Linked DNA regions of Homo sapiens. The protein of the gene in region 4 interacts with the protein of the main gene of each other region in a biochemical or structural test. Each region holds a gene or a part of one and is shown on either strand. Other genes may lie near its edges. The genes, in order: AICDA, ANLN, WWTR1 and USP10.

What was found.
Region 1: the proteins of USP10 (region 4) and AICDA form a complex in vitro, tested with the Homo sapiens proteins (one study listed by BioGRID).
Region 2: the proteins of USP10 (region 4) and ANLN form a complex in vitro, tested with the Homo sapiens proteins (one study listed by BioGRID).
Region 3: of the proteins of USP10 (region 4) and WWTR1, one has a biochemical effect on the other in vitro, tested with the Homo sapiens proteins (one study listed by BioGRID).

What each region holds. Positions count from the first base shown.
Region 1 is NC_000012.12:8,602,535-8,610,296, reverse strand, and holds part of AICDA (single-stranded DNA cytosine deaminase), read left to right. Parts: intron 1-3,284; coding exon 3,285-3,432; intron 3,433-4,811; coding exon 4,812-5,082; intron 5,083-5,374; coding exon 5,375-5,490; intron 5,491-5,959; coding exon 5,960-6,013; 3' UTR 6,014-7,762. UniProt on the Homo sapiens protein: Single-stranded DNA-specific cytidine deaminase. Involved in somatic hypermutation (SHM), gene conversion, and class-switch recombination (CSR) in B-lymphocytes by deaminating C to U during transcription of Ig-variable (V) and Ig-switch (S) region DNA.
Region 2 is NC_000007.14:36,420,246-36,428,007, forward strand, and holds part of ANLN (anillin), read left to right. Parts: coding exon 1-69; intron 70-351; coding exon 352-499; intron 500-1,611; coding exon 1,612-1,747; intron 1,748-2,387; coding exon 2,388-2,564; intron 2,565-3,571; coding exon 3,572-3,698; intron 3,699-4,299; coding exon 4,300-4,348; intron 4,349-4,440; coding exon 4,441-4,497; intron 4,498-5,456; coding exon 5,457-5,495; intron 5,496-5,769; coding exon 5,770-5,791; intron 5,792-6,670; coding exon 6,671-6,783; intron 6,784-7,762. UniProt on the Homo sapiens protein: Required for cytokinesis. Essential for the structural integrity of the cleavage furrow and for completion of cleavage furrow ingression. Plays a role in bleb assembly during metaphase and anaphase of mitosis.
Region 3 is NC_000003.12:149,516,444-149,522,496, reverse strand, and holds the end of WWTR1 (WW domain-containing transcription regulator protein 1), read left to right. Parts: intron 1-1,507; coding exon 1,508-1,692; 3' UTR 1,693-5,262; downstream 5,263-6,053. UniProt on the Homo sapiens protein: Transcriptional coactivator which acts as a downstream regulatory target in the Hippo signaling pathway that plays a pivotal role in organ size control and tumor suppression by restricting proliferation and promoting apoptosis.
Region 4 is NC_000016.10:84,773,000-84,780,761, reverse strand, and holds the end of USP10 (ubiquitin carboxyl-terminal hydrolase 10), read right to left. Parts: intron 5,603-7,762; coding exon 5,537-5,602; intron 1,868-5,536; coding exon 1,680-1,867; 3' UTR 840-1,679; downstream 1-839. UniProt on the Homo sapiens protein: Hydrolase that can remove conjugated ubiquitin from target proteins such as p53/TP53, RPS2/us5, RPS3/us3, RPS10/eS10, BECN1, SNX3 and CFTR.

The DNA.
Region 1 (7,762 bases), on a different chromosome or scaffold from region 4:
AATCCCAGCACTCTGGGAGGCTGAGGTGGGTGGATCGCTTGAGCCCTGGAGTTCAAGACCAGCCTGAGCAACATGGCAAAACGCTGTTTCTATAACAAAAATTAGCCGGGCATGGTGGCATGTGCCTGTGGTCCCAGCTACTAGGGGGCTGAGGCAGGAGAATCGTTGGAGCCCAGGAGGTCAAGGCTGCACTGAGCAGTGCTTGCGCCACTGCACTCCAGCCTGGGTGACAGGACCAGACCTTGCCTCAAAAAAATAAGAAGAAAAATTAAAAATAAATGGAAACAACTACAAAGAGCTGTTGTCCTAGATGAGCTACTTAGTTAGGCTGATATTTTGGTATTTAACTTTTAAAGTCAGGGTCTGTCACCTGCACTACATTATTAAAATATCAATTCTCAATGTATATCCACACAAAGACTGGTACGTGAATGTTCATAGTACCTTTATTCACAAAACCCCAAAGTAGAGACTATCCAAATATCCATCAACAAGTGAACAAATAAACAAAATGTGCTATATCCATGCAATGGAATACCACCCTGCAGTACAAAGAAGCTACTTGGGGATGAATCCCAAAGTCATGACGCTAAATGAAAGAGTCAGACATGAAGGAGGAGATAATGTATGCCATACGAAATTCTAGAAAATGAAAGTAACTTATAGTTACAGAAAGCAAATCAGGGCAGGCATAGAGGCTCACACCTGTAATCCCAGCACTTTGAGAGGCCACGTGGGAAGATTGCTAGAACTCAGGAGTTCAAGACCAGCCTGGGCAACACAGTGAAACTCCATTCTCCACAAAAATGGGAAAAAAAGAAAGCAAATCAGTGGTTGTCCTGTGGGGAGGGGAAGGACTGCAAAGAGGGAAGAAGCTCTGGTGGGGTGAGGGTGGTGATTCAGGTTCTGTATCCTGACTGTGGTAGCAGTTTGGGGTGTTTACATCCAAAAATATTCGTAGAATTATGCATCTTAAATGGGTGGAGTTTACTGTATGTAAATTATACCTCAATGTAAGAAAAAATAATGTGTAAGAAAACTTTCAATTCTCTTGCCAGCAAACGTTATTCAAATTCCTGAGCCCTTTACTTCGCAAATTCTCTGCACTTCTGCCCCGTACCATTAGGTGACAGCACTAGCTCCACAAATTGGATAAATGCATTTCTGGAAAAGACTAGGGACAAAATCCAGGCATCACTTGTGCTTTCATATCAACCATGCTGTACAGCTTGTGTTGCTGTCTGCAGCTGCAATGGGGACTCTTGATTTCTTTAAGGAAACTTGGGTTACCAGAGTATTTCCACAAATGCTATTCAAATTAGTGCTTATGATATGCAAGACACTGTGCTAGGAGCCAGAAAACAAAGAGGAGGAGAAATCAGTCATTATGTGGGAACAACATAGCAAGATATTTAGATCATTTTGACTAGTTAAAAAAGCAGCAGAGTACAAAATCACACATGCAATCAGTATAATCCAAATCATGTAAATATGTGCCTGTAGAAAGACTAGAGGAATAAACACAAGAATCTTAACAGTCATTGTCATTAGACACTAAGTCTAATTATTATTATTAGACACTATGATATTTGAGATTTAAAAAATCTTTAATATTTTAAAATTTAGAGCTCTTCTATTTTTCCATAGTATTCAAGTTTGACAATGATCAAGTATTACTCTTTCTTTTTTTTTTTTTTTTTTTTTTTTTGAGATGGAGTTTTGGTCTTGTTGCCCATGCTGGAGTGGAATGGCATGACCATAGCTCACTGCAACCTCCACCTCCTGGGTTCAAGCAAAGCTGTCGCCTCAGCCTCCCGGGTAGATGGGATTACAGGCGCCCACCACCACACTCGGCTAATGTTTGTATTTTTAGTAGAGATGGGGTTTCACCATGTTGGCCAGGCTGGTCTCAAACTCCTGACCTCAGAGGATCCACCTGCCTCAGCCTCCCAAAGTGCTGGGATTACAGATGTAGGCCACTGCGCCCGGCCAAGTATTGCTCTTATACATTAAAAAACAGGTGTGAGCCACTGCGCCCAGCCAGGTATTGCTCTTATACATTAAAAAATAGGCCGGTGCAGTGGCTCACGCCTGTAATCCCAGCACTTTGGGAAGCCAAGGCGGGCAGAACACCCGAGGTCAGGAGTCCAAGGCCAGCCTGGCCAAGATGGTGAAACCCCGTCTCTATTAAAAATACAAACATTACCTGGGCATGATGGTGGGCGCCTGTAATCCCAGCTACTCAGGAGGCTGAGGCAGGAGGATCCGCGGAGCCTGGCAGATCTGCCTGAGCCTGGGAGGTTGAGGCTACAGTAAGCCAAGATCATGCCAGTATACTTCAGCCTGGGCGACAAAGTGAGACCGTAACAAAAAAAAAAAAATTTAAAAAAAGAAATTTAGATCAAGATCCAACTGTAAAAAGTGGCCTAAACACCACATTAAAGAGTTTGGAGTTTATTCTGCAGGCAGAAGAGAACCATCAGGGGGTCTTCAGCATGGGAATGGCATGGTGCACCTGGTTTTTGTGAGATCATGGTGGTGACAGTGTGGGGAATGTTATTTTGGAGGGACTGGAGGCAGACAGACCGGTTAAAAGGCCAGCACAACAGATAAGGAGGAAGAAGATGAGGGCTTGGACCGAAGCAGAGAAGAGCAAACAGGGAAGGTACAAATTCAAGAAATATTGGGGGGTTTGAATCAACACATTTAGATGATTAATTAAATATGAGGACTGAGGAATAAGAAATGAGTCAAGGATGGTTCCAGGCTGCTAGGCTGCTTACCTGAGGTGGCAAAGTCGGGAGGAGTGGCAGTTTAGGACAGGGGGCAGTTGAGGAATATTGTTTTGATCATTTTGAGTTTGAGGTACAAGTTGGACACTTAGGTAAAGACTGGAGGGGAAATCTGAATATACAATTATGGGACTGAGGAACAAGTTTATTTTATTTTTTGTTTCGTTTTCTTGTTGAAGAACAAATTTAATTGTAATCCCAAGTCATCAGCATCTAGAAGACAGTGGCAGGAGGTGACTGTCTTGTGGGTAAGGGTTTGGGGTCCTTGATGAGTATCTCTCAATTGGCCTTAAATATAAGCAGGAAAAGGAGTTTATGATGGATTCCAGGCTCAGCAGGGCTCAGGAGGGCTCAGGCAGCCAGCAGAGGAAGTCAGAGCATCTTCTTTGGTTTAGCCCAAGTAATGACTTCCTTAAAAAGCTGAAGGAAAATCCAGAGTGACCAGATTATAAACTGTACTCTTGCATTTTCTCTCCCTCCTCTCACCCACAGCCTCTTGATGAACCGGAGGAAGTTTCTTTACCAATTCAAAAATGTCCGCTGGGCTAAGGGTCGGCGTGAGACCTACCTGTGCTACGTAGTGAAGAGGCGTGACAGTGCTACATCCTTTTCACTGGACTTTGGTTATCTTCGCAATAAGGTATCAATTAAAGTCGGCTTTGCAAGCAGTTTAATGGTCAACTGTGAGTGCTTTTAGAGCCACCTGCTGATGGTATTACTTCCATCCTTTTTTGGCATTTGTGTCTCTATCACATTCCTCAAATCCTTTTTTTTATTTCTTTTTCCATGTCCATGCACCCATATTAGACATGGCCCAAAATATGTGATTTAATTCCTCCCCAGTAATGCTGGGCACCCTAATACCACTCCTTCCTTCAGTGCCAAGAACAACTGCTCCCAAACTGTTTACCAGCTTTCCTCAGCATCTGAATTGCCTTTGAGATTAATTAAGCTAAAAGCATTTTTATATGGGAGAATATTATCAGCTTGTCCAAGCAAAAATTTTAAATGTGAAAAACAAATTGTGTCTTAAGCATTTTTGAAAATTAAGGAAGAAGAATTTGGGAAAAAATTAACGGTGGCTCAATTCTGTCTTCCAAATGATTTCTTTTCCCTCCTACTCACATGGGTCGTAGGCCAGTGAATACATTCAACATGGTGATCCCCAGAAAACTCAGAGAAGCCTCGGCTGATGATTAATTAAATTGATCTTTCGGCTACCCGAGAGAATTACATTTCCAAGAGACTTCTTCACCAAAATCCAGATGGGTTTACATAAACTTCTGCCCACGGGTATCTCCTCTCTCCTAACACGCTGTGACGTCTGGGCTTGGTGGAATCTCAGGGAAGCATCCGTGGGGTGGAAGGTCATCGTCTGGCTCGTTGTTTGATGGTTATATTACCATGCAATTTTCTTTGCCTACATTTGTATTGAATACATCCCAATCTCCTTCCTATTCGGTGACATGACACATTCTATTTCAGAAGGCTTTGATTTTATCAAGCACTTTCATTTACTTCTCATGGCAGTGCCTATTACTTCTCTTACAATACCCATCTGTCTGCTTTACCAAAATCTATTTCCCCTTTTCAGATCCTCCCAAATGGTCCTCATAAACTGTCCTGCCTCCACCTAGTGGTCCAGGTATATTTCCACAATGTTACATCAACAGGCACTTCTAGCCATTTTCCTTCTCAAAAGGTGCAAAAAGCAACTTCATAAACACAAATTAAATCTTCGGTGAGGTAGTGTGATGCTGCTTCCTCCCAACTCAGCGCACTTCGTCTTCCTCATTCCACAAAAACCCATAGCCTTCCTTCACTCTGCAGGACTAGTGCTGCCAAGGGTTCAGCTCTACCTACTGGTGTGCTCTTTTGAGCAAGTTGCTTAGCCTCTCTGTAACACAAGGACAATAGCTGCAAGCATCCCCAAAGATCATTGCAGGAGACAATGACTAAGGCTACCAGAGCCGCAATAAAAGTCAGTGAATTTTAGCGTGGTCCTCTCTGTCTCTCCAGAACGGCTGCCACGTGGAATTGCTCTTCCTCCGCTACATCTCGGACTGGGACCTAGACCCTGGCCGCTGCTACCGCGTCACCTGGTTCACCTCCTGGAGCCCCTGCTACGACTGTGCCCGACATGTGGCCGACTTTCTGCGAGGGAACCCCAACCTCAGTCTGAGGATCTTCACCGCGCGCCTCTACTTCTGTGAGGACCGCAAGGCTGAGCCCGAGGGGCTGCGGCGGCTGCACCGCGCCGGGGTGCAAATAGCCATCATGACCTTCAAAGGTGCGAAAGGGCCTTCCGCGCAGGCGCAGTGCAGCAGCCCGCATTCGGGATTGCGATGCGGAATGAATGAGTTAGTGGGGAAGCTCGAGGGGAAGAAGTGGGCGGGGATTCTGGTTCACCTCTGGAGCCGAAATTAAAGATTAGAAGCAGAGAAAAGAGTGAATGGCTCAGAGACAAGGCCCCGAGGAAATGAGAAAATGGGGCCAGGGTTGCTTCTTTCCCCTCGATTTGGAACCTGAACTGTCTTCTACCCCCATATCCCCGCCTTTTTTTCCTTTTTTTTTTTTTGAAGATTATTTTTACTGCTGGAATACTTTTGTAGAAAACCACGAAAGAACTTTCAAAGCCTGGGAAGGGCTGCATGAAAATTCAGTTCGTCTCTCCAGACAGCTTCGGCGCATCCTTTTGGTAAGGGGCTTCCTCGCTTTTTAAATTTTCTTTCTTTCTCTACAGTCTTTTTTGGAGTTTCGTATATTTCTTATATTTTCTTATTGTTCAATCACTCTCAGTTTTCATCTGATGAAAACTTTATTTCTCCTCCACATCAGCTTTTTCTTCTGCTGTTTCACCATTCAGAGCCCTCTGCTAAGGTTCCTTTTCCCTCCCTTTTCTTTCTTTTGTTGTTTCACATCTTTAAATTTCTGTCTCTCCCCAGGGTTGCGTTTCCTTCCTGGTCAGAATTCTTTTCTCCTTTTTTTTTTTTTTTTTTTTTTTTTTTAAACAAACAAACAAAAAACCCAAAAAAACTCTTTCCCAATTTACTTTCTTCCAACATGTTACAAAGCCATCCACTCAGTTTAGAAGACTCTCCGGCCCCACCGACCCCCAACCTCGTTTTGAAGCCATTCACTCAATTTGCTTCTCTCTTTCTCTACAGCCCCTGTATGAGGTTGATGACTTACGAGACGCATTTCGTACTTTGGGACTTTGATAGCAACTTCCAGGAATGTCACACACGATGAAATATCTCTGCTGAAGACAGTGGATAAAAAACAGTCCTTCAAGTCTTCTCTGTTTTTATTCTTCAACTCTCACTTTCTTAGAGTTTACAGAAAAAATATTTATATACGACTCTTTAAAAAGATCTATGTCTTGAAAATAGAGAAGGAACACAGGTCTGGCCAGGGACGTGCTGCAATTGGTGCAGTTTTGAATGCAACATTGTCCCCTACTGGGAATAACAGAACTGCAGGACCTGGGAGCATCCTAAAGTGTCAACGTTTTTCTATGACTTTTAGGTAGGATGAGAGCAGAAGGTAGATCCTAAAAAGCATGGTGAGAGGATCAAATGTTTTTATATCAACATCCTTTATTATTTGATTCATTTGAGTTAACAGTGGTGTTAGTGATAGATTTTTCTATTCTTTTCCCTTGACGTTTACTTTCAAGTAACACAAACTCTTCCATCAGGCCATGATCTATAGGACCTCCTAATGAGAGTATCTGGGTGATTGTGACCCCAAACCATCTCTCCAAAGCATTAATATCCAATCATGCGCTGTATGTTTTAATCAGCAGAAGCATGTTTTTATGTTTGTACAAAAGAAGATTGTTATGGGTGGGGATGGAGGTATAGACCATGCATGGTCACCTTCAAGCTACTTTAATAAAGGATCTTAAAATGGGCAGGAGGACTGTGAACAAGACACCCTAATAATGGGTTGATGTCTGAAGTAGCAAATCTTCTGGAAACGCAAACTCTTTTAAGGAAGTCCCTAATTTAGAAACACCCACAAACTTCACATATCATAATTAGCAAACAATTGGAAGGAAGTTGCTTGAATGTTGGGGAGAGGAAAATCTATTGGCTCTCGTGGGTCTCTTCATCTCAGAAATGCCAATCAGGTCAAGGTTTGCTACATTTTGTATGTGTGTGATGCTTCTCCCAAAGGTATATTAACTATATAAGAGAGTTGTGACAAAACAGAATGATAAAGCTGCGAACCGTGGCACACGCTCATAGTTCTAGCTGCTTGGGAGGTTGAGGAGGGAGGATGGCTTGAACACAGGTGTTCAAGGCCAGCCTGGGCAACATAACAAGATCCTGTCTCTCAAAAAAAAAAAAAAAAAAAAGAAAGAGAGAGGGCCGGGCGTGGTGGCTCACGCCTGTAATCCCAGCACTTTGGGAGGCCGAGCCGGGCGGATCACCTGTGGTCAGGAGTTTGAGACCAGCCTGGCCAACATGGCAAAACCCCGTCTGTACTCAAAATGCAAAAATTAGCCAGGCGTGGTAGCAGGCACCTGTAATCCCAGCTACTTGGGAGGCTGAGGCAGGAGAATCGCTTGAACCCAGGAGGTGGAGGTTGCAGTAAGCTGAGATCGTGCCGTTGCACTCCAGCCTGGGCGACAAGAGCAAGACTCTGTCTCAGAAAAAAAAAAAAAAAAGAGAGAGAGAGAGAAAGAGAACAATATTTGGGAGAGAAGGATGGGGAAGCATTGCAAGGAAATTGTGCTTTATCCAACAAAATGTAAGGAGCCAATAAGGGATCCCTATTTGTCTCTTTTGGTGTCTATTTGTCCCTAACAACTGTCTTTGACAGTGAGAAAAATATTCAGAATAACCATATCCCTGTGCCGTTATTACCTAGCAACCCTTGCAATGAAGATGAGCAGATCCACAGGAAAACTTGAATGCACAACTGTCTTATTTTAATCTTATTGTACATAAGTTTGTAAAAGA
Region 2 (7,762 bases), on a different chromosome or scaffold from region 4:
AAGAACTCGTGTCCCTCGAGCTGAATCTGGTGATAGCCTTGGTTCTGAAGATCGTGATCTTCTTTACAGGTAAGAACATTTCTGGAAGGCATTCACTCACTAAGGGTCATGGTTTAGATTGACATAAGTCGTGTTATAATTTGTAATTATAATGTTATTAATAACTCATCTGTATAAAAGTTTGGAATAACTTTTGTTAGCCTCTCTTTCACCAAATGAGAGTTCCATTCTGTTGTGAAATGTTCTGCTGACATGTTCAATATCAGTGTCAAATTCTGCTGATATGTTCAATAAAGGATAGTGCTCAGTGTGTTGCTGGATTTCTAATAGAGTGTAACTTACCTCTTGAAGCATTGATGCATATAGATCTCAAAGATTCAAAGAAACAGAACGTCCATCAATAAAGCAGGTGATTGTTCGGAAGGAAGATGTTACTTCAAAACTGGATGAAAAAAATAATGCCTTTCCTTGTCAAGTTAATATCAAACAGAAAATGCAGGTATGTACTTTTGTGGAAAGGGGCTTTGGAATGTTTCTTGCACTAGGCTGTGAGCTCTGTGAGGACAAAGGGCCCAGCCTTACTTATCTCTGAACCCTGAGTGGCCAGAATAGTGTCTGATGCATAGAAGCTCAGTAAATCACATTTGAATTCAGTTTATTTTTGGAAAGGTACTCTTTTTGAAAACTTGGAAACTCATTTGATATTGCTGAAATATTTATTTTTAAACAAGTTTTTCATAAATATCCTTAAAGTATAACTATTAATTGGATAATGATGTAGTGGGAAATTTGTTATGCTCTTCAAGGTTTTTTCATGCTAAGGAAGCTTTTTTTTTTTGAGACAGCATTTTGCTCTTTGTTGCCCAAGTTAGATTGTAATGGCGCAATCTTGGCTGACTGCAACCTCTGCCTCCCGGGTTCAAGCAATTCTCCTGCCTCAGCCTCCCAAGTAGCTGAGATTACAGGCATGCACCACCACACCTGGCTAATTTTTATATTTTTAGTAGAGATGGGGTTTCACTATGTTGGTCAGGCTAGTCTCAAACTCTTGAACTCAGGTGACCCACCCACCTCAGCCTCCCAAAGTGCTAGGATTACAGGCATGAGCCACCATGCCTGGCTTTTAAAAAAAATATTTTAATTATAAAAAAAAATAGAGATGGAGTCTCACTATGTTTTCTAGGCTGATCTCACACTCCTGGGCTCAAATGATTCTTGTGCCTTGGACTCCCAAAGTGCTGGGATTACGGGTGTGAGCCACCATGCCTGGCCCTAAGGAAGCATATTAAAAAAAAACAGTGTAATTGTAATTTAAATAAAATGAATCAGATACTTTCTAAATTTCTACGTTGTTGGATGTAACCCCAATTTTAACTTTAATAAGTATGAATTGGAAGTTTTTTCATAAGGAATAATATTTATAGCTTAATTATTGTAACATGCTAAATGTTTTTGGTGCATAGTCGAGAAACTTGAGCAGTGAAACTAACATTTTGACTTTCATCTGGAAATTCTAGAAACTATCCAATCAAGTTAGTTAGAATTAAAATTTAAAGTGAAAATGATGATTTAAAATGTGTATATTTTTTCTCCTCTCATTGGTTTTCCTAGGAACTCAATAACGAAATAAATATGCAACAGACAGTGATCTATCAAGCTAGCCAGGCTCTTAACTGCTGTGTTGATGAAGAACATGGAAAAGGGTCCCTAGAAGAAGCTGAAGCAGAAAGACTTCTTCTAATTGCAAGTAAGTGTGATGCACCTGAAAGAGTTCCAACAAATTTCTAACCAGGGAAAACTCATTTTGATATTTAGAAATCTTTAAGTTTAGAGAAAGGGCTTTTCCTAGTCATCTGTTCCAGTGGATCTATTTTTTGTTCTTGTTTTTATAAGGTTTAAGAACTCTATGTAAAACAAATTGTAGTTTGCATGAAAGGTAGAAGCAACCGAAAGGCATTTGAAGAAATGCAGTTGTGCAGATTGAATGAATGAATGGATGAATGAATGAATCTCTATATATACACATGTACACATACATTCTCTCTCTCTCTCTCTCTCTCTCCCTTCCTTCCCTTATCAATAAATAGCTAAAACAACTTCTGTGAATTTTGCTGTGTGCGTATATGTGGTGATGATGGGGCATTTTGGGGTGGACAGATGATACCACACATGAAAACTAGCCGAAAGTTGATGTATTAAATTATAAGGACTTGGTAAATGAGCAACCAAGGTTTTCCCCAACCACCTACCATGTTTTATAAAGATAGTGTTACTGATTTCGTCTTCGCTGTTACGTACAGTTTCCATATCAGTACACTTTTTTGAATTTGCTCTCATTAGAAACAGTTACGATTTTAATATTTGGAATATTGCGTTGTTTTACATAGCTGGGAAGAGAACACTTTTGATTGATGAATTGAATAAATTGAAGAACGAAGGACCTCAGAGGAAGAATAAGGCTAGTCCCCAAAGTGAATTTATGCCATCCAAAGGATCAGTTACTTTGTCAGAAATCCGCTTGCCTCTAAAAGCAGATTTTGTCTGCAGTACGGTTCAGAAACCAGGTATGGTGGTGATTTTTCTAGATTGTGTGTTAAATTATGAACCTCACCTAGATTGAATTGTACAGAATAGAAACAAGTAAATCATGCATAACAATGCAAAGTTTGTATCTTTGGCCTTTAGGTCCTTTTATTGAGATATAATAAAAATAAGAAAACTTCAGATATATATAGGGATACCAATCTACACAATAATGGACATTGCTCTTACTGAAAGTTTGAATATAAAGTTTTATTAAATGTTGGATATGGTTTTTAAAGTTCCTTTTAAAATTTTATTTGTGTGGAACACAAATTTTTTTGTGTGTGTTCTGGAATACCAAAGAAATAAAGGAATACTGAACTGATTTATACACAATTTATTTTAAAAAATTTCTTTTTGAGGGGAAGGAGGGCTAGACATAGGTGAGAAGCAAATTTCAGGCATAGGGAAAGTAAATGGAGGTTGTGAAAGGTTTGAGCACTTTTGTAGGAATAAGGTAATTTAGGTTCTAATTCTTGATGTTATCTGATTTTGATGGGGTGTGGGCAGAAATTTATTGGTAATTTAGTATGCGTCTGGAGGTACGTGGTTATTAATGACAAATGGTGAAGAAATAGTTTATGTTTTTATTATCATTTATCTCTGAGTAACTTTTATAGAAATACAGTATTTTAATTTCAGTTTTGAAATAACAAACCATAATTTACCCTTTTGAGATATGTACTATTAGTTAAGAATTAAGGGTCACTAGGTAAAATTCAAAATCAGCAGAAATTGAGAAATGTGGAGTGAAATTATTTCAATTTACATAACAGGGAGAGACCTTGATGATGCTTATTTCAGGATTATACTGCCTACTTAAGTCTTATTTAGCTTTTTGTGTCTGGAAAGTTGATTTTAGTAATTTTAAAAATAAATTGTATATAAATCAGTTCAATATTCCTTTATTTCTTTGGTATTCCAGAATGCTGATTAGCTAAATCTGATTTTGCTTGTGCTTACTATGTAATATGATTACTTCTTACAGATGCAGCAAATTACTATTACTTAATTATACTAAAAGCAGGAGCTGAAAATATGGTAGCCACACCATTAGCAAGTACTTCAAACTCTCTTAACGGTGATGCTCTGACATTCACTACTACATTTACTCTGTAAGTAAATCAGGCTTTTGATGATTCGAATGCATTTTTCTTTTTGTAGAGTTGATACAGTCTAAAGCATTCAGGTGGCATTTATAATCTTTGAAACGCCTTATGCACATTCTTTTTATATTGACAAATAACCCATCTTTCAATTTGTTGCTTTAACTCATATGTTTCTATCCTTCCTTTTGTTGAATAGCACCTTTTTTCCACATGACTGTAGGTATTACATATTTTGAAATGATATATACATTAAACCTGGACCATAGATTTTTAACATATGCCTTAAATCTCATAATGTACTTAACATTCAGTCTTAATGAAAATACGTTTATATTTAGTGAAACATTTATTTTTAAATAAGAGTCAAAGTGCAGTTTGAAAAATAATTACTACTTTTATTATTGAAGATTGTGAGTTGTAAAACACGGAGGAAAATATTTTGGACTTGCATTATAGGGAAAAAATAGACTTCTTAACAATTTTTATTGACTTTAAAGTCATAGTGGATTCCTTTACTTAGAGTCTTGTAAGAGTATTTGTAGCATCATTTTTAATGGTGTGATTGAGGTTTTCTCTCAAGGTTTTACTTAATGCTTTATTTTTCCAGGCAAGATGTATCCAATGACTTTGAAATAAATATTGAAGTTTACAGCTTGGTAAGCTGATAAAGCCTTCTAAAATAATGAAGAGTATATTTTTCTTAACAATATCAGATTATAAATTAATTATGCTTTGGGTTTGTGCGTAGGTGCAAAAGAAAGATCCCTCAGGCCTTGATAAGAAGAAAAAAACATCCAAGTCCAAGGTGAGAATTAAAGAAACCCAGTAAAAATATTTTCATCAGAAGTAATAGATATCATCATACCAGTTTTAATTTATGTACAACTTTTAATGATTAGGAAGTTTTTGGATCAGTTTCATGTTCCAATTTGTAGTTACTATGTTAAATAGGTATGAATACTGAAAATAAACTGTGAGTGATCATGATTGTCAGTATAAGTTCCTGATACACTCGGGCTAGATAATTCTATTTTCTCTACATTTACTTGGCAACTTTTATAACTGCTTAAAACTTTTCTCAAGACTTTTCCCTGAGCCCTCTTCTCTCTGTGTTCTCTATACCAGTACTTAATAATTATGTGGTCACTTTGCAGGCATAAGGTTGCTTTCCAGCCTTCCCAGTCTGTGTTCTTTTCTTAAGTCATCATTTTAAAAACTTTTTTTTTTTAGCTCTAACAAAAAAGGACTAACAGTATAAGAAAGCCTTAATCAGGGACTCAAGTGTAATGTTTTCATATTTAAGAATTAATTACTCAAGGACTCATGTGTAATGTATTCATATTTAAGAACTCATTCTTTTTTTTTTTTTTTTTTTGAGACGGAGTCTCGCTCTGTTGCCCAGACTGGAGTGCAGTGGCGTGATCTCAGCCCACTGCAACCTCCACCTCCCAGGTTCAAGCGATTCTCCTGCCTCAGCCTCCTGTGAAGCTGGGACTACAGGTGTGTGCCACCACATCTGACTAATTTTTTGTATTTTTAGCAGAGAGGGGGTTTCACCATGTTAGCAAGGGTGGTCTCAATCTCTTGACCTCATGATCCGCCCGCCTCAGCCTCCCAAAGTGATGGGATTACAGGCGTGAGCCACTGCTCCCGGCTAAGAATTAATTATTTTCTATGTAGGAATTTCTCAAGGTTGGATAGTTTTACTTTCTGAGACATAATGTTTAATAAGAAATATATATAGTAAGCTATCTTTTCTTTTAGGCTATTACTCCAAAGCGACTCCTCACATCTATAACCACAGTAAGTAGAATTTTTGAGAAATTGAGCTTCCTTGAGAAATCTTCATCTTACCCATACAGTTTTAAATTGGTTAACCATTTCTGAACCTTGAGCACTGTGGAAAATTTTAACATGTACTAATGGGGGGATATCCCTGTAATTTATGTAGGAAAAGTGTTTTCTGAAATGTATTTCTTATTGTGTTAAAAGAGATGAGTGATTCATATTTAAATCTTTGTATTAAATAAGGGAAATAACTTATGTTTCTTCTTCACACCTTTTTTTTTTTTTTTAGAAAAGCAACATTCATTCTTCAGGTGAGTGTATCTTGAACTATTTGAAACTTTAGAATAAGGTAAGGAATTAAGCACTTGCATATTTACATATATATAGGCCATCTTGATTTGTGAATGTTTACCTTGATCTCCTTTGGAATAATATTTTCTATGTGAGTTTCTTAGTAACAGGATTACTGGCCAGAGTAGGATGCAGTTTGGTTGCACCTTTGTTAGGTACCACCATAGAGGCACCAGTCATCATGTTATTCAGCTCTAGCAGCAGGTGGCATTACTCTTTACTTCAACTTCTATTGTTCTATAGATTTGTTTTGTGCTTTCCATACTGCAGATTTTACTTCTTTTAGCTTTACTGATCATAACTGGCGTTGTATCATGTCAGAAATGCATCTTTCTAGTTCACTGGGAACTGGAATGCTGTTAAGCCAGGAAAGGCCTTCTTTAGAATGACTTTAGGCCTATCTTTTTCCAAAAGGAATTAGGATGGAGCTGGTTTCACTCACTTCCTTTAGGCTATTGGTCTCTTTCTTCTCTGTGGTGCAAGAGAGTTACTAAGAGACCTGTACAGAGATAGTTTCTGCTGCTGATTTTGTCACCCTGCATTATAACTAGCACTGAAGTCTTTTCCATGTTTTTTATCGGGAAGTTGCTTTTTATGCATACATTTTTAGGTCTATATCTTTAAAAACACATCCATCCCAATTATTAAGGAGTGCTTGTACCTCTTTCATTAGGAAATAAGTTGATTTTTCCCCCCACATTTAAAGATGAAGGAAAATGAGGCAGTTTTTTTTTCTCTGTGGCAGCTTAATTTTCTTCTACTGGGATGGGGTGAGGAATTGTTACTTATACTTAACAAAAGTCATTCTGAACTAAACTTAATTTCCTCGTTCTTCACAGTCATGGCCAGTCCAGGAGGTCTTAGTGCTGTGCGAACCAGCAACTTCGCCCTTGTTGGATCTTACACATTATCATTGTCTTCAGTAGGAAATACTAAGTTTGTTCTGGACAAGGTAATCCAACTTTATTTCTAAGGGTGTGGTGTTTTTTTTTTAATCTTAGAAAAATTAGCTCAATGGAAATGCCACAATGCTTTTAGGTATTTGAAATCTTCGACTGAAAACATATGTTCTTAGAATTGCACATTTTTGCTAGGTATGAGTGTACCTAAATGTTTTTTTTTTTTTTTGTCTTGGAAGTATGTCTCCCTTTTAATAGTTAGAACTTCAGTGGATGCTTGCTTATTCTAAGTATCACTTCTGACTAAAGAAGTATTACTTCCTGCATTTAGATGTTAAGTTTATAATTTTAAAACATAATATCTTGCCTATTTCCATTTCTTTGTGGTTTTTTTTGTTTTTTTGTTTTTTTGTTTTTGAGACAGGGTCTCACTCTGTCACCTAGGTTGGAGTGCATGGCTCACTGAAGCCTCAGCCTCGCGGGCTCCCACCTTAGCCTTCCAAGTAGCTGGGACTACAGGCACGTGATGCCACGCCTGGCTAATTTTTACTATTGTTTTGTAGAGATGGGGTTTCATCGTGTTGGCTAGGCTGGTCTCGAACTCCTGGGCTCTGGCCATCTGTCTGCCTTGGCCTCCCAAAGTGCTGGGATTATAGGTGTGAGCCACCTTGCCCGGCCAGCCTATTTGAACCTATATTTTGAAATGAACAATATTTTATGAATTTAGTTTTGACAAGACAGTGAAAGGTAGATTAACCTCTTAGAAAAGTACTTACGAATCTAAGAGATTTCCTTCTCATACTTCCCTTTCATATTAGAAGCTTCAAAAATCAGATCTGTGTTAACATCACTATTGAGTCTTTTTTTCACCAAGACTATTTTAAGGAGTAAGACAACTAGAGGCAAATTTTATTTCTTGGGTTGACTTCTATATAATACAGTGATAATTTATATTATCATGTGAGATTTCTGTAGTGCGAATATAGAGATGAAGAAGTGTAAAAATTAGAAGCCCTGGTTTCTAGTATTTAC
Region 3 (6,053 bases), on a different chromosome or scaffold from region 4:
CTATATTGAGGTCATATTGTTGAATTTGATTTAATTTTTCAGTTTACTACCCTTTGCAATGAAAATACTGTAAAATGTTACCCAGGAGTCATTTATATTTTGTGACTTCTAGAAAAGCCATTGTGTTTTGCTATCACCAAAATCCAAATTGGATGATGGTTCCTTCATCATTTGGAAGGATATAATTTTTCTCCCTGGAAAACACAGATTGCTAAAGTGAACTTTCGGCAATTTTGCTTAAAATAGTGAAACTTCCCTACACACGTTTCAGGAAGGCTACTGCACTTGTAACACACAAAAGATAATTTAACAAGTTTTTAAAAAATGACGTTATGGTGGAAGCTGGCCTTAGTTATCAATGCTTCTCAATTTTTGAAGTAGATATTATCTCTTCAGAAAATTGTTTGGGACTTTTTGAATTAACCTGTTGTTTTGATATTGTGTAATTAATAGTGGCTGAAGACCTGGGTTTTTCTTTCTCTCAGGACAATGAACATTTATTATATTTTTGTATGTATATAACTTTGTATATATCAATGACACCCAGAGCCATGGATATGTGGCAGACACTATATGGCACTTTACTCTAACTTTTGTAAAAGGAGCATATGATCCCAATTTCTAGATGGGTAAACTGAGAATCAGGCAGGTTAAGTGTGTCTAAGCTTACACAGCCACAAAGCTCGATCTAATGACACCAAAGTCAGTAGTGCATTCTGTCCCATACTATGACACATAAAGAACCTATATTCTTCATGTCATATCCCAGACACCTACTTTTCCTCTAGTACAGCATTTTCTCACCTGTGTTCTGTAGAACTTCAGTTTTATTTGAATACACATACTGCCAAAATAGGTTTAGGTGATTAAATGGGTTTAGGAAATAGTGTCTTAAAGAAAACAAAAGATTTCTTTACTCTAAGACTTAAAGCCTTAACATGCTCATATGCACTGTGCTCATATGCTTGTGAGAAAGGCAGATAGTTGTAGGGTGTAGGTATTACAGAAAGAGGGAAAACGTCTGCAGAACTGCCTTTATAAATGATGCCTAAAGTCATCAATGAAGACAACTTTTTAATAGCCTGGTTAAAAGAAGCTTCACACCATTCTCTTTGAACATAAAGAAGGATGGTATGGGTAAACCTAAGCTTACAATGAAACCTGTAGATTATAGTTCTGTAATAAGCTGTTTATTACAGACAAGGCCTCTCTACTCTTTTGTAAAACAGTTCTTCACACCTTTGTCATGGGAAGGCACAGATCATAGATCAGATCCACAGTGCCTTTCACATGCTCCTTTCTTATCTCCTTGGCCTTTTCCATTCTGGACCACACCTATCCAGAAATAATTTTCGATTTCTTCCACATCTCTGTACCTCTTATGAGTAAGGGTCAATAATGTGGTAGTTGAAGACATGAAGGTGAGGGTTATGTAAATACTTGAACTGTTCCTCCTTCAAGAGCCTAAAAGAAGGAATTAAAATGGTTTCTTTTCATTTTGTTATAGGAGAAAACGCAGGACAAACACCCATGAACATCAATCCCCAACAGACCCGTTTCCCTGATTTCCTTGACTGTCTTCCAGGAACAAACGTTGACTTAGGAACTTTGGAATCTGAAGACCTGATCCCCCTCTTCAATGATGTAGAGTCTGCTCTGAACAAAAGTGAGCCCTTTCTAACCTGGCTGTAATCACTACCATTGTAACTTGGATGTAGCCATGACCTTACATTTCCTGGGCCTCTTGGAAAAAGTGATGGAGCAGAGCAAGTCTGCAGGTGCACCACTTCCCGCCTCCATGACTCGTGCTCCCTCCTTTTTATGTTGCCAGTTTAATCATTGCCTGGTTTTGATTGAGAGTAACTTAAGTTAAACATAAATAAATATTCTATTTTCATTTTCTGCAAGCCTGCGTTCTTGTGACAGATTATACAGAATTGTGTCTGCAGGATTGATTATGCAGAATACTTTTCTCTTTCTTCTCTGCTGCCCCATGGCTAAGCTTTATGGGTGTTAATTGAAATTTATACACCAATTGATTTTAAACCATAAAAAGCTGACCACAGGCAGTTACTTCTGAGGGCATCTTGGTCCAGGAAATGTGCACAAAATTCGACCTGATTTACAGTTTCAAAAACTGTATTGATGACAGTAGTACCAAATGCTTTAAAAACTATTTAACTTGAGCTTTAAAAATCATTGTATGGATAGTAAAATTCTACTGTATGGAATACAATGTAATTTTGAATCCATGCTGGCTCTGATGGCTCTTATTAGTCTGTATTTATAAAGGCACACAGTCCTATTGTAGCTTATCTTTCGTTATTTTACTGCAGAGCATCTAGACAACTTAGTCCCTCCAGCGGGAAAGTAGCAGCAGCAGCATTAGTCACAGGTCTTACACTACAGATCTTGTGAAAGAGACCAGTTTGGTACTAATTATGAGCATTTTATTCAAACAAAAGTTTTTGAAATATTACAACTGGGGATTTAAAAAATTGCAGCTTAGAATCTGATGGTTTTTTTTTTTCTTGATGTTGTTTGTTTGTTTTTGAGATCGAGTTTTGCTCTTGTTGTCCAGGCTGGAATGCAATGGCACAATCTCGGCTCACTGCAACCTCTGCCTTCTGGGTTCAAGCGATTCTCCTGCCTTAGCCTCCCGAGTAGCTGGGATTACAGGCACCTGCCACCACGTCCGGCTAATTTTTTGTATTTTGAGTAGAGACGGGGTTTCACCATAATGGTCAGGCTGTTCTCAAACTCCTGATCTCAGGTGATCCACCCATCTCGGCCTCCCAAAGTGCTGGGATTACTGGCGTGAGCCACCGCACCCGGCCTTGATGTTTATTTTATAAAGCACTGTAATTTTGTAGCTGATGACAAAAGGCAGCCAAATGTTTTTGATAAATCAGTGGCAACTGTATTTTTGTCTTTTGAAATAACTCTGAAAACATCAGGACAACATAGATTTCAACCTGATAGCACACCACACACAGTGAGCTGTTGCTTTTTAAATTCTGAAGCCTTGTCAGGTTTGCTTCCTAGATTTCAAGTGTTTAAAATAATTCTATCTATGAAACTGAAGGATGAAGCAGATCTCTGACTGACATGTAAAAAAAAATGCCCTTTGAGGGTGTATGGTGGAGATAAATGTTTCTGAATTCAGTAAAATTGATTCCTAAGTATATTATCCTAATCCTGTTTGCTACAGTTGGTATAAAAAGGCATGAAATATGTATTCAATACCTCTTATGTAACCAAAACCATTTTTAATTAGCTTTTAAGGACTGAGAGAGCATCATGTTCAACTGGCATGCAGTCTGCCTGCATTGCCAATGAAGTCCTCAACTGTTTAATATTTTGAACTAATATTATTTATAATCTATGAATTTAATCTTTTTTGAAAGACTTTAATAATTTGAGTCTCTGAGAGGATACTTTCAATTTCCATGGGGGACTTATTTGTTGGGGATCTTAAATAAGATTCCTTTTGATCTACCGGAATATACATGTACAGAGTACATTGGATCATGTTGGAAAGAAGGCAAGTGAAAAGGTCAGAGATGAAGTAGCAAAGTTATGGAATATCGTGGAAAGGATACTAGTTGTGAAATGGAAAGAGACAAGTTATAGTACCCCAAAAGCAAAACAAGCAGGAGATGCAAGAGATGCCCCAAAAGGACAAAGCAACAATTTTCTGTTGCCACCTTTATACCGGAAGACTCTGTTGTAGAAGAAAAGAAGGCTTTGGTGCACCTTATGTGGGAGGAGGAGGGGCAGGGCATGCTGATGCTGAGCGTACAGGCAGACAAGAGCGTAGCCTGCTGTTGCCTCCATCACTATGAAATGACTTATTTTACCTGAAGGACCCATGGTTTATGTTCCTCTAATTCCTTTCACTCTCCCTAAGCCCTCTGAGAGAGATGAAGATAGATGATTTTATTGCTACTAAATTGAAGGGAGCACTATTTCTTTTTGTCTTTTGTTAGCAAAAAATTGCAAAAAGAATTGTACATTCTTGCTAAAAATAAATAAATAAATAAAAAATTAAAAAAACAAGGGACCTAACAAAACTCAGCAGTGTTACTGTATTTTTAAAAAATATTTTTATAGACTCATTTTCAGGTTATTAAATGTAAGAGAAACAGATACCCCTCTTTTTTAAAGTAGGTAAATCATTGATGATTTATATTACCAATTTTTAGAAGTAATTTTCTAGTAAGCTTGTGGCATCAGAAAATACTAGAAGATTTTTTTAGTTAAATTAGTTAGAACATTTATGAATGAATATAATAAATATTTTTTCAGAATAAAATATGGACCCTTTGTGTTTACTAATAGATAAAGCCAGATATAATTTTTTGTTTTTAAGGCCACAAAATATGGCCTTTGTTAAAGAACACTAAAGTTAGAAATCTAAAGTTAGAGCAACTTTTTAATGGCTATTTCCTATTATTGTAAGTGTTAAAACCCCTGCAGAATTCTTGATAAGGTGCTATTTATACTATATTTCTTATTATAAGATAACTGTCTTTAGTCTTCTTAGTACTAGTCTTTTTAGTACTAAATCAATCAGTAAACATCATCATTTCACCCCAAAATTTTGTCACAGAAAAGGCGTATCAAATGAAAAATAATTTCAGAGATCTTTCTTTCAAGATATTTTTTCCTGATAAAATACATTGTCTTGAAGTAAATACATTGTCAAAACCTAATTGCAATTCTGTTAAATCTAAGTAATTTTTAGACAGTGTTTCACCGTATTATTTAGGATGTGAAATGCCATTTCTTTCACTGATTACACCATATACAGGAAACAGGTAAAACAGTGAAAACTTTATTGTGCTGGTTGATGCCAACTTGGTTGAAAAGCTCTCTGCAGAAGAAGTGATCTAGACTGACAGAAGTGTTGCTAATTACAAGTTGTGTTCTCATGACGTAATTAGAAAGTAACTTCTCAAAGTACAACTTTTATGAAAAAAATAAGCTGTTAAAAAAAGGAAATCGTAGGTTAATTTAATTGGGAAAATGGGCAATTGACAGAGACCATTTTCCTAACACATATATGTGCTAGTACTTTAACTTTTTAAAATTTTACTTCTACGTTTTGTAATATAAAAATTTCTATTTTAAGTTTAGAATGTTATACGTACCGAAAGTATGCAGCCAAATCGATCAGATCAAACCATTTTACCTGGAGTTTGGTACTGGTTTTTACTTCTCTGAATCTGTATAAGAAAAATAAAGACAATTGAACTTCCACTTGGAGCTTTTGACTTTTCATTATTTGTCTGTGTTCCTTTTACTAGGGGATTTGGGTGGTACTGAAGACAGGCTTATGTAACCCTCCTGGCAGACAATGAAAGAAAGAAAAATCTGCAGGCAAACAATTTCTTGGCTCACGTGCCTGGCCTTCAACATTCTAAATGTTCACAGAATTCTAGTTTCCACTTTATTTACAATGTCCACTGAGGTTTTTAAAGGTGTATATATACACCTTTAAAAATAAAAACATATACCTTTAAATATATATATATCACATCATTGTCCTCCCAACACCCTCACAGATTTGACAAGACCATCAAAAATACAGGATTCTTGCTGGGCACGATGGCTTATGCCTGTAATCCTGGCAATTTGGGAGGCTGAGGCGGGAGCATTGCTTGAGCCCAGCAGTTTGAGACCAGCCTGGGTAACATTGTGAGACCTTGTCTCTACAAAAATATATAAACATTAGCCAGGTATGGTGGTGTAGAATATACAACAAACTCTTATAAACCAATAGAAAAAACAAACAGCCCAATAGAAATATGGATCAATAATGTGAATGGAAAGTTTATAGAAGATGAAACTGGCTGGTGACTAATTTACCAACCTCATTCCAAATCAGAAATTTAGATAAATAATGACTGAATTCCCAGTGGCTCATAGGCTTGCTGGAACTCTTTCATTGACCTAGACTCTGCAACCTTTTCCTACTGGCTGTTTTTGAAATCGGTTTCTTGTAACTTAAAAGTTTGAGTTGATAAAACCTTGAACTGTAATTAGCAGAG
Region 4 (7,762 bases):
GATTGGTGCATTTTACAAACCTCTTGCTAGCTACAGAGTGCTGGTTGGTGCGTTTTACAATCCTAGCTACAAAGTGCTGATTGGTGCATTTTACCATCCTCTTAGAGGACAGAAAAGTTCTCCAAGTCCCCACTTGACCCAGGAAGTCCAGCTGGCTTCACCTCTCAATATGAGTTATAATTCAGCCAAGCAAATCACAATAGAATTACAAAGGGTAAGTAGGTTAGACGGACAACACTTGTACAGAAAGTTTAGGAAGCTCTGAACCCCAGATGGCACCAGGCTACAATCAGAAATACCAGATGGTAAGAGCAAGAACTTGAGAGAAAGGCTCAGACCACGTTAAAACCCCTTCTCTGTAGATCTCAGGACACCACAATCATCCACACAGGGCCAGAAGCCGGGGCACGGGCACCCTTGCACGTGACATCCCTCTCTCCATGTCTTCCGTCTCAGAAGGCTTCCTTCCCACTACTGAGGGTGGCGTCTGGAGGCACCGCTCAGCCGCCCCAGTGGCACTCAACTGAAGAGCATTTAGCCTTGACCTACAGCAACTATTTTGGTGATACTGAAAACGGTGGGCTATAGAAACAAGGGATGAGGAGGGGAAGGGGAGAAAACCTCCTCCTTTCTGCCAATCGAAGAGTCAAAAACTTCGTGTACCCAAATCACTAATCCATTTGAAAATACTAAACAAGCATAACCTGAGTGGTGGTTCAGCTTCCACAAACACGTCGAGCTGATCGAAGGGCAGATTTTAATTCTGCAGGCAAACTCATGCCCCCATGAATTTCAGTTACCCGAAAAGGCATTCGCATTCAAAGAAACACGCACACACCTTTAAACCAACTTTGTGATTTTTATTGATGGGCGACAACTTTATACTCCTAGATATCACTAAACTGTGTACAATTAGGGACGCAGCATTAGAGAAGAGCAGACAGCAGAATTAAACAGAGCAGACTGAAGGAGAGATCTTCATTATTTGCCCATTTTTCATTATGTGTACACAGAAGCATGAATGCAATTTGAAATCTTTTAATGGCAATAAAGTTACAATCACCCATCTATGTAGACTAACATTTTAACTCCAAATATTTGATCTGCAATGTGTACGTAAGCAGTTTCTCTCAGTACAATTATTAAAATTTTTCCTGTTAGGAACCAGCAACTTATTTTTTATGTTTATTTTTCTTTTGAAGTAAGAACTAGTTCTTCTTTGATAACTGGCTCATTTTTATCATTTATCAAAAACTAAAGGGTAGGGAAGAAAAGTGTGATGGATTAAAAAATTTCTTTTTTAAGGAAAGATAAAATTCATTTTCACAAATTTACAAGTGTTGTTGCTGGTGCAGGATTTATTCTACTAAGCAATGAGACTGGGGATCAAATCCACTTTCTTATCTCAGGAATCAGCATTATTTCAGAAATATGGGTTTTTGTGTATTTTCTAAAATCAAGCAACAGTCTGTTTCAACCAAATGATTTTGATTTGGAAGTTAGAGTCAACAGAAGCTGTGTTGTGCACGAACCCCAAGGCATCTCCTTTTCATTCTAGCCCATTTTTGCAAAGGGAGAAAGAGTTTCTCTCTAAAGAGCCACTAAAGAGAGGCGGGAAGTGAGTGTGAGGTGGTGTCCTACGAAGCGGGCACTGGGCGCACACACAGCGCACACAGGGTTTACAGCAGGTCCACTCGGCGGTAATACAGGAGGTAGGCTGTGCGTTCAGCAGTTGGTTTCACCACCTGGTACTGGTTGATCACCTTGACTGTCTGGTCATCGATGCGCAGCCAGCCATTCAGACCGATCTGGAAGACGTCTGTAGTGTAATGGCCGCCCGTCGCACTGTTGCCGTGATGGTAGACCACTGGAAGAGAGCCCAGCAGGCAGCAGAGTGAGAACAGCACTGCACACGAATCATTACAGGTCTCCGCCGACTTCCCTCCAGGGATGCATCCTATGTGTAAAACCCCTCTCCAAAGCAGGTGGGACAGAGAGATGTCATCACACAAACCAATGCTATTTCAACTCAAACACGCAAGCAATCCATAATAAAAACTTTTCTATAACTGCAAGGTAAGGGTAAGTCAGATAGGTACATGTGTGCATGTACGCATATTAACCACATATTTAAAATGTCCCACGCCTCACACAGACACTCCTACACAGCCATCAGCTGTACAGGCCTACAGACCTGGCTCATGCCCTTGGATGTGGCTGACTCTACTTCTAGACTGTCCTGAAGAGATTATCTGAATCTTGGACAGAGATTATGATGTCATTTATAACAGTGAAAAAACGGAAAACCTCAATAGCCACTAGAAGAAATGACTGATGAGTAAATTATATTAAAATAACACAATTTATTTTTTCGTGGAATAGATTAAGAATGGTGATGCGGGAATACGCTTATGGTATATTAAATGAGAAAACAAGGTCCTTAGGCCTTCTGTGGCCCATCTATCCTAAAGACACGGGACACAATCTCCCGGTGCCGGCCCACATGGCAGGAGGGACCCTGGGACTGCTAACCACGGTTGCTTGAGCGTGGAGCTGTGGTGGGGCACTGCGGAGATGGTGCTGGTAGTTACGCATTTGCCTTTAAAAAAAATTACCCATTTTTCTATGTTTTAACAGAACAAAACACACACACACACACACACACACACAGTTATTTACTTAAAAAAAAAATCCTATAACCAAGAAGCCTTAGTCAAAGGCCTAAAACAAAAAATCTGTAGAAGATGTCATGAAAACATTAAGACAGCCACAGAACACATCCTCCACTTCTATGGAGCAGAGGGGCACAGGTCTGCCTGGCCAGCAGCAGACACCAGCCTCGGGAAGGCGGCTGTCCGGCAGCATTCCGCGGGGAATGACAGGGCAGCCTGCTAAGCTGCGCCCACCATCAGTGGCACAAAAGAAAAGGAACCAGGAGAGATGCAAGACTTGGCTGGTAGGGAATTTCAGCACTAAAACAAGACCAAACATCACCAGGTTCTAGTCGCAGTTGTCACGTGGAGGGGCTAAATGACAGCAGGAGGCCTCAGTCCTCTCTGGGCCAGGGACCTTGGCTGGCTAGAGGACAGTGCTTATGACTGAGGCCACCAGTCAGACTCCTGGGCTCTGCACAAAGAAATCCTCTGTGCAGGGACCCCGGAGGAGACTGAACAGCATAGGGACAGCAAGACTGTGGGGCCCGTACTTCGGAGAGCCAGGGACACAGCCAATCCAAGGGCATAGCTTCATCCTGTGCTGCACAAGTCACAGCCATCTTGTGAAAGGGCAGGAAGCACCCATGACAGCAGCATGTCCCCTGGATCCCAAGTTCACTTTGAGACTTCTGTCCTAGATCTTCACCTCACAGACCTAACTGACTGGGCTAAGAGTTTTGCTTCAAAGCGACCATCAGTAGAATCTGCAGGGCCTGGGGGTTTTACTAACTTGTCTTTCCCACAAGACATCTCCATTCTAAAATGTCAAGGGGGACTGCATGTCACCATTCTAGTTTCATAAGCAGCAGCCCAGTTAACTACCCTGGGCTGAGCCGTGTGTCACTCACACCTGCAAGCCCCCCTGACAGGAGCGCTGAGAACCGCCTGAAAAGCTTGTGCGCGAGATTGCTTCTCCCAGGCCCCACAATCACAGCAGTTCTTAAAAAGTGTTCCTTTGCTCACTCTACAGGTAATTCTAACCAGTCCGGTGACCTCATTTCCAAGATCAGAATAGGCTTCCAGCCTGGCCAAAAGGGCGAAACCTCGTCTCTATTCAAAATACAAAAATTAGCTGGATGTGGTGGTGCACAGCTGTAATCCCAGCTACTCGGGGGGCTGAGGCACAAGAATCACTTGAACCTGGGAGGCAGAGGTTGCAGTGAATGGAGACTGTGCCACTGCACTCCAGCCTGGGCGACAGAGCAAAACTCTATCTCAAAAAAATAATGGGTTAGGGGATGAGGATTCAGGAGGGCAGGGGAGAGCAACCCAGGCCCAGGTCCCGGGGCGAGGCAGGTTGCAGAGTCGGGGAGGGGTGTGTGTGCTCACACTGGGGCCCTGACCAGGAGAGGAGCAATCCCTAGCCCCTGCCCCTGCCCAGTGATGTCCCCCGCAAGAGCCTCCAGGGGAAGAGGTGCAGGGAGAAGGCGGAGAAACTGCTGGCCACCCACTGGGACCTGGGTGCCACACTCCAAGGAGCCAGGCAGGATAATGGCTGGCTGCAGAGTCTGAGGACTCAGACCTTCCATTCCAGACAGGGCTGGAGACACCCACAAGCGCGTGGTGCCCATGGCCGTCCCATCTGAGGCCCAGCAAGTTGAGGAGGAATTGTGATCGGGGGGAGAAAAGAAGAGAGTCAAAAGGAACAATGAATAGTGAGAGGAAGAGAGGGAAGCCTGGCACCTTGCAGTGTGGCTCTGGGCCTCACCCACTGGGCCCTCACCCCTGGGCCCCCACCGCTAGGCCCTCACCCCTGGGCCCCCATCCCTGGGCCCTCACCCACTCGCCAAACTTCCTAAAACATCGGGCGTGAGCTGAGGTGGACAGGAGCTTGAAGCCCTGCTCTGCCACTGCAGGCCAGAGTGGTGAGTTTTCTTCCTTGAGTTCTGGTTTATTCTTTTATAAAACAGGGATCCCACCTCCCATCTCCTAGGACACATGTAAGGAAATGAAAGAATATCTTGGGAAGAGGTTCAATACATGTGTGAAGGTCAATAAATGGCAGTGTTATGTTACGATACAAACAGGTTCACCAAAGGCCACACCAGAGGAGGGAAGACACAGAAGCTAGAAACATGTAGTAAAAACAGCCTGGGAAGCAAACAAAAGTGCGGCAAACAGCAACAATCCAAAGAGGTAAAGACTCAGAGGCATAAAAGATGACGCTATAAAAGAGAAAGAAGGATAAAAGGGAAGGCAGAAAGGAAAGGGAAGATGATGTGGCAGAAAAAATGATACTGCAGGGAGCCTAAGCCAGGAGACAGAAGAGGTCTCAAGGTCCACCCATGAGGGAACAGGGGGTGCCATTCACCCTGTTGGGAGATTTCTCATGACTGACTGAGGGCCTGGCAGCCGAGGAGCTTGTGTAATCGGGCCCACCCTCTCAAGCAGCCCTAACAATACCTGTGGGGGAGGACGCAGGGATCACCGGCTGGGGGCGCGCTCACCCAACCTGGCTGGGTGACCAGGTGTCGTGGAAACTCCACAGCACTGTCACCCACAGGTGCCACAAGCACAGCCGGGAGAGGTCACATTCTCAAACAGCCAGCCTGGGAGCCTGAAACTCCCTCCTCTGACTCAAAGACAGAAATGTTCGCTTTGAGCAAGGTCTTCTGTTATCTGTCCTCAGGGCCAAGATGATAATCCGTCATCTACGCAGAGTTTCAGGTAAAACTCTCACGTGACTCCCCGACTCACAAGGCCACAGGGATACCTGAGTACAGCATCTGGTCGCTATGCTAAGTTGCAGCAAACCTGTGCCCAGCTGTAAACCCCTTCATCAGTGTTTTAATGAAGAAGTAATGTCGTACAAATTTACTCACCTGCAAAGAGCCGATAGGTTCGGTGGCATTTAAAATTCTTATTTTTAACCCCTGGAGAAAGCAGTTCTGGAAAACAAAATATCAATGGCTTGAAGCACTTTTAGAAAGGTTCAGGGTAACAGCAGCAGAAAATGGCTAACAACATTCTCCCCAGCAAGTAAACTGCCTGTCAGACCAGGAACAAAACAACACTCTATCCCTTCAGTTGCACAAAAATTGACTCATGAAGGAAATGAGCCATGTGACGTAATAGGACACAAAATGTGCAGCCAGCTCACTAAAGAAACAGGAGCAACGGCCGAGGCTGTGATGCTCCTGTGGGAGGCCCCTTAAAAACAGGTGCTCTACAAAATGGAAAAGAAAAAAGCTGCTGACTTAAAAACAAAAACAGTTGTGAAAAATCCAAGGCAAGAATTAAAATTTTACATATGCGTCAGATCATAAAACTTCAATTACAGGCCAGGCACGGTGGCTCACGCCTGTAATCCCAGCACTTTGGGAGGCTGAGACGGGCGATCACGAGGTCAGGAGATCGAGACCATCCTGGCTAATACAGTGAAACCACGTCTCTATTAAAAATACAAAAAATTACCCGGGCGTGGTGGCACGCGGCTGTAGTCTCAGCTACTCGGGAGGCTGAGGCAGGAGAATCACTTGAACCCGGGAGGCAGAGGTTGCAGCGAGCCGAGATCGCGCCACTGCACTCCAGCCTGGGTGACAGAGCAAGAAAAAAACAAACAAACAAAAAAAAAACAAAACAAAACTTCAGTTACAGAACAGTAACATGATTTCTCCAAATAGGAACCAGTCTACCAGCTGCTACGAGGCGGGAACTCCCTGCTCTTACTGTGCGCAGAAGTACCACTTACACCGACACAAGAGTCCGTCGGAGGCATGCTGTTCGAGGCAGCCATCTGTACTTCTGACCCATGACCCAAGTGAGGTCCTCTTGTCCCCCATTTATGTTATTTATTTATTTTTTTGAGATGGAGTCTTGCTCTGTTGCCCAGGCTGGAGTGCAGTGGCATGATCTCAGCAACCTCTGCTTCCCAGGTTCAAGCGATTCTCCTGCCTCAGCCTCCCAAGTAGCTAGGATTACAGGCACCCACCACCATGCTAGGCTAATTTTTGTGTTTTTAGAAGAGTTGGGGTTTCACCACGTTGGTCAGGCTGGTCTCGAACTCCTGACCTCAGGTGATCTGCCTGCCTCGGCCTCCCAAAGTGCTGGGATTACAGGTGTGAGCCACTGCGCCCAGCCCCCATTTATGTCATATTTTGATAATGTATTGGAGGTGGCAGCGGATATAAAAATACAGCAAGCAAGAAAAGATATAAAAATAAAATCACTGTAGCAAAACATCCAAGTCAGCTCAGACAGCTGATCTGGAGGCGAGTGAAGATGCAGGAGCAGAGGCCGAGGATGCCTTCTTTGACTTAGCCGGCATTCCAGGTTTCCCGATGGATAGAATAAAATGGGGAGGAGGATCTGTTACATGATTCTCACTGGCATCTTTCTTCCTCTTGCTGGTCCTCAAATGGGATTAAAAAGCAATCGGCTGATGAGTGATAAGGCAGCTAGAAGTGTGAGAGGAGCAACGGACACTAAACCCGGCACAGCAGCCAAGCCCGTCAGCAGAAAGCACAGCTCTTGTGTGCAGGCCTGGGAGAGACAGTGTCTGAGTCTTCACGGGAAGGTATAGGGCGCCCCTAGGGTAGACAGGGAGCCGGCTAGAAGCCAGCCATGCCCACAGTTCCTGGGTCATCTATATGGAAGGAGGTATGAGGTGGGGTTGCTGTGCCAGGGGACGGAGAGAAGAGGACTCTCGGTTCAGGTTTGTTCCTCTGCAGGACCCAGGAGTGAGGCCCAGTGTCCTCTTTTCTGCTTCCCAAACACCTCGATATTCTGAGAATCCTCTCTAGCTAATCACAGTCCCAATCAAGCCTCAGTGTTGTACTATACGTTTTCACAAATTCTAAAGCTTTCAAGAAAAGTCTTCTTGAAGCTGTGCTTTTAGCAAGATGCCTTTAACCTGGGGCTCTTTAAAATTGCTTTCAAAAAGTGCCGAGCCCGTGACCTGACAGAGACTTGAGGCTGGTAAGTGCCACGTCTTATTTGTGCGCCACCACAACTAGAGGTTAGAAGGGACTCTCACTGCCTATGAGAAATCATTCTTACTTCACTAAAAACCACTTAACTGGGCTAGTCAACACAGCTGTTAATACTCG